Linked DNA regions of Homo sapiens: region 1 is linked to region 2. A link means that fine-mapping ties the variant in region 2 to the expression of a gene that starts in the linked region. Tissue or cell type: tibial nerve. Region 2 holds a variant in brackets; the other region holds the start of a gene. All regions are shown on one strand. Distances are between the middles of the regions.

What was found. PIP is the estimated chance that this variant, and not a neighbour inherited with it, causes the effect.
Region 1: SSPN starts here. The variant in region 2 is fine-mapped to the expression of SSPN in tibial nerve (GTEx, PIP 0.98).

Annotation. Positions count from the first base shown.
Region 1 is chr12:26,194,479-26,197,100 of GRCh38, reverse strand. SSPN (sarcospan) reads right to left here and starts at 1,528. Exons shown (of 3, transcript NM_005086.5): 1 at 1,150-1,528. The coding sequence starts at 1,428.
Region 2 is chr12:26,242,349-26,245,110 of GRCh38, reverse strand. The region is part of intron 1 of SSPN-AS1 (SSPN antisense RNA 1); the gene reads left to right. Among named protein-coding and RNA genes, the nearest start is that of SSPN-AS1, 28 kb to the left of the region's middle. The variant CTAAAG/G (reference allele first, on the strand shown) is at 1,247.

The DNA.
Region 1 (2,622 bases), 48 kb after region 2:
GATTCGACCACATTCAATCTCTGGGCTTGAGAATGTCATCTAACTTCTCTTAGCCTATTTCCTCACATCCAAAAGGAATAACAGTTCCCACTTCAAAGTGTTGTTTCGTGGCTCAAATGAAATAATGCATGTGAAAGAGTTTAATATGCTACAAGACACTGTAATATAACATAATATTAAAGTTACAAACCAAATGTGGTGGCAGTGTGGTTCAATGAGGAAAACGCAGATATAGTCTAGCATAAAGAGGAATCAGCATGGCTGAATGCTTTACCCACTCATGACCCTGGGTGAGTCTGGCCTGGGTTCCCTCATTTGAGAAGTGAGAATGATTAAAACGATCCCATCAGGACGATGTGGGGATTAGAAATAATATGTGTCAGGCCTCTAGCAGGGCGAGCACACAGTAGGTATTCAGTAAGTGGCACCCGTTTTACATTAAAGAATTCATTTAATCAAGCCAAGTATGCTACATGTTTCAACACTCACAACAGCTGAGTACTGTTCAACTTAGAACAGTACATCCATCGGTGGAGTCCCAAATATACTTCTGCCATGGCCAGCGCCCTGGGTTTATCCCACTTTAGACTCCAGTGGATTAAGGCTGTGCTTGCTGTATTCGCATTTCCTGCCTTAGCCCATCATTTCAGGAAACTTACTAATGGAGCCTCAGTTTAAAACATAAAATGAATGCTACTCAATGTGGCAACTCCAAGTACAGGCTTTCTCCTCTCCTGCTTTCACTAGATGAACTTAATTCACTTTTTGCCACTTGTTTAAGGACAGGGGTGGGGTCTGGGTAACAGGATAAGGAAAAAGCCCGAATGAATCCGCTGTTGTTATTGAGGCTGTTCAGTCTGACCAAAATAAGCAGCTTTTGAAATGAACTCCCCAGCTCCAGAGCGTCAGAGTCAGGCCCCGTGGAGGCGCTGGGAGCCGCGAGCAGGAGAGGGGCAGGAGCCCTATCGCGTCCAGCCCTGCCCCGCCCGGGAAAACCCAGTGCCCCACGCATCAGTCACCGAGCAGAGCGCGAGTTAGAAGAGTGAACCCGGGGAAGGGCACATGCAGCTGGGTTAGTCTCAACTCGACCATGCGACTTCGCATTCCTGTTTGGCAAACGCGCTTAGGCAAAACAGACTTGATGCTTACAATGATCCCAGCCCAAAATGGAGTGTCCCTGACTAGCAGGGAGGAGCTGATGCTCGCCATGAGGAAGCCCACCACGGTCACGGCGATGCCCAGGGCCAGCTGCAGCAGGGCGAGCAGCAGCGGGAACCGGCAGCCGCAGCAGGTCCGGGGCTCCTCCTCCCCGCACTCCTTGGGGGCCCCCGTGCCCTTCTTCGGCTCCATGTCGTCGGGCCCAGCGGCGTCCGCGGCCGGCGGGCCCCCCTGCCTCTGCTGGCCGCGTGGCTGCTTGTTCTTGCCCATGGCGCTGCGAGGCTGGGTGGGTGGGTGGGTGCGTGTGCGGCGCCCTGGGCCCTGGAGCGCGGCGCACGGCTGGCTCGGCCTGCCCTGGTATTCGAATTATGGAGGCTGAACAAATATGGAAAACATTTGGAGCCGACTCACCGAGCCTCCAAAGGCCACGGGGAGCCCGCAGCAGAGGGGGGATTCGAGGGGGGTCGCCAACTGCCAACGCGCCGGGACGCAGCGCCTGCCGGGCCCCGGGCAGGATTTGCAGGTCGCCCGCGGAAACCGGCGCGGGTCCCTTGGCCGCCTGAACCTCTGCACTTCAGACAGGCTGCGAGTGCGCGCGTGTGCGAGTGCGGGGCGTCTGTTTTCCTCACTCAAAACTCCAGGATTGTTTTGGTTTTGCTTTCTGTGAAGTGCAATGCAAGGTGATGAATGTTGAAATCGTTTGAGCTTAATTAATACACAGTTTAATCCAAAATAGGCACTGCTGGGCTCTAAGCTGCGAAGTCATTTCCAGAAGTTAAGTCGTTGTTACTTTCCTACAGAGGCACAGGCTCTTTTCTTCCTACTTTCTGTAATCCAGCTGACAAATGAATAAAGGCATTTTTCGCATTTAGGTGTTTTTGAATCTTTCTAAAGATATTGGACTAATTGTGAACTCTCTTTCACATATGTTATTAATTATTATTATTATTTTCCAAACAGGGGCTCACTGTGTTGCCCAGGCTGGAGTGCATTGTCACCATCCTAGCTCACTGCAGCCTCAGACTCCTGGACTCAACAGCTTCTCTCTCCTCAGTCTCCAAGTGGCTGGGACTACAGGCAATCACCACCACATCTGGCTAATTTTTTAAAATTTTTTTCATAGAGATGGGATCTCATTATGTTGTCCAAACTGGTCTTGAACTCCTGGCTTCAAGGGATCCTGCTGCTTCAGCTTCCCAAAGTGCTGGAATTACAGGCGTGAGCCACCATGCACCCGGCCTCTCACGTGTATTTGTTTTTAAAAGCTCTGTTGGCTCACGCCTGTAATCCCAACACTTTGGGAGGCCGAGGTGGGCGGATCACAAGGTCAGGAGTTCAAGACTAGCCTGGCCAACATGGTGAAACCCCGTCTCCACTAAAACTACAAAAATTAGACAGGCGTGGTGGCACGCACCTGTAGTCTCAGCTACTCGGGAGGCTGAGGCAGGAGAATCGCTTGAACCT
Region 2 (2,762 bases):
CAAGCTGTAACTCTAGTGTTCCTGAGCACCTAGTCAAGTATAATAAAATAATTCCCCTCCTCTTCCATCTCTAGCCCATATTTTCAGATTCAAAGATGAGCTGGGAAACAGGGTTGATAACAGGTAATGATAATGATAAGCACAGATTGCGCCCTTAGAATGTTCCAGGCACTCTTCCCAGCGCATTACAGAGACAAACCCATGTATGCCTCACAATGACCCTATGAGATGGGTGCTCTTATTACCCCCGTTTTATGGATGAGGGAACGAACTTGGGTATAGAGTAGTTGAGGAATTTGTCCACGTATATATATAGCTAGTAAATGGTAGCAAAACCTAGGCTTGGACACGAGGCAATATGACTGGTCTCAAGTCTGTTTTTAACCACTGAACCACACTGTGGCAGGCGGGCAGCTTCCTCGGGGATTGCAGTCGCCAGTGTTACATAATCAACACCAAGGGCTCATTCTTAAGGAAAGAGGCTGTTTGGTCTGCCCCTTACTGTTTTCTAGTCACGCTTACAGCTACCCTTCTTCAAATAGGTCTTGGGTCCCCCACATCACCTTTTCCCTTTCTTCATTCTCGGAGAATATGAGTAACTTCCATTTTATTTACTTCTTTTATTCTAAAAAATAAATATAGAAGAAAAATCCTGGGTATATTAGCAAAATAAATGTCAACATTTTGCCCTGTCCCAGAAAAAAAGAAAAAATAATGAGTTATTGCCTAATATCCTTGAGAATACTGGGCAGGGGTTTCAAACCTGTTGAAATTAGGGTTTATACATTTGCAGATCCCAATCAAATAGGAAAAAGAAGATAAATCATAAGACAAAGAGTAAAGGGGGGAAAAGGAGGGGGAGAAAAACATATGCCAGTTTTAAGCCAAGAGTTTATGTTAATAAGAAAAAGAGTTGAGGTGAGTGAGCCTAAACGAGTCATCTAACCTCATCTGGCCTCAGTTTGCTTTTCTGTAAAATACACAAGCTGGACTGGAAGGAATCTGTCCAGCCCTAACATAGTGATTTTAAGATAAGAAGTAACTGCAAAGGTGATCGAATTGGGAGTAAACTAAAAGAGGTTGTAATGATATTTCCTTTTCCCTTTTCATACTTTTCCTTATTACAGGAAAACAAGTATAATAGATAACTTTTGACTACAAGTAACAAGACCTAAAATTAAGGGCAGAAGATTTTAATATATTATAATAAATAGGTAACATTTGACTCTAAGTAACAAGACCTAAA[CTAAAG/G]AGCAGAAGATTTCTCACCTTTGCTAATGTCAAGGGCCATGACTGCACTGGGACAACAATGCCCAGAGGTAGAGTGTGGATGAGGGTATAATCTGGGGGTGGAAGAAGAGAAGTATCCCTCAAAAGTACACTAAAATCCAGTAATTTCATAAAAACCCCACCTGAAGCCTAATTCCTCTTACAAAAGAGTCCATGACCTTCAATAAATCCTAAGTTTGCCAGAACACAGCGTGAAAACCTTAGTGCCTATCTTTAAGTACCTCACATGTTCATTCACTCTGACCTTCAACTCTTTTTCATCCAGAAACTCTTTTGTGTTATACGAGGAATGAATGCAAAGCTCTGTGGGCAGCTATCCAAGGGTTTCCATGCTGACGTCTCCTTGGTCCCTCACCCTAGTTTTGTTTCTTCTTCCTCTGCATGAAAGAAAAGCAGAGAAAGAGTGAACTTGGAGTAGGAGGGGAGGTGGCTTGGGGTCAAGCGTCGTGTTGGCTATGCCCTTCTTTTGACCTCATAGATCCACTACTTTTGGAGCAATGACTGTGGCTTGGAGTGTTTGTTCATGGTCTGATCAGATCCTGTGACATTTCTCCCAAAGGCAGGAAGGCATCTCTCCCCCAGCAAGATTGTTTGGTCCTGTCTATATTTCATGTCTATTTTTAATTCACCAGGAGGCTACAAATCTAAATCTCATCTATCTTAGCTCTTAAGGGTACCCAAAATGACAATTTATAGAACTCTACATTTAGGTTTGAACAGAATAGCCTTGCATTTTAAGCCCACTTCTGACACCACCCCATGGAGCCTGGGGCAGGCAATGTGGCCTGGTAAGAACAGCTTTGGAAAAGGCCCCTGAAGGTGTTGTTTCTTGGATTCCAGGGCTGACCTTGACTGTCTGGACATGAATCTATAAAATTTGAGGAAACCAGTTTGCTCTGCACCTTCCTACTGTCACACAAAAGTCCCTACCAGGGCTTTGCCAAAGTCCAGCTCTTATATGGAACCTGAGTTACTACTGGTGCTGGGCAGGGCTCAGGGACAGAGCTTAATGGAGGGGCAGGAAGAAAATAACTTGGCCAGCTGCATTGAAGAAAGTAGTCATATATATCTGTGCAAACACTTAATTCATAAAACCTACCAGAGTCTCAAAAACAAAGATGGTGGGATTTTCCTTTCCAAAGTACACTGCTCATTACCCTAAGCTTTTGTTACTTTTTTACTCCCTGAAAGGTTGTATAAGGTATTTCTTATAATCTAAAGTTACCTGCAGTTATGGAAGTAGGGGAGTGGCCAATGGGATGGCTCTGGGCTCTAAAAGTCTTATTCTGTCCCTAGCATCATTCTCCCAGGTCAGTGAGCCTCAGGATTCCTAGATGCCAGGACTTGGAAGCCTGACCCAGTTTGCCCATGGAGTACAGATTATGGCTTGGGAACAAACACAAGAAAATCTTCTCTGTTGCACTTTCTAATGTTTGCAGAGGGCAGAGGGATTGCTGTTTTGTACTTAGGCT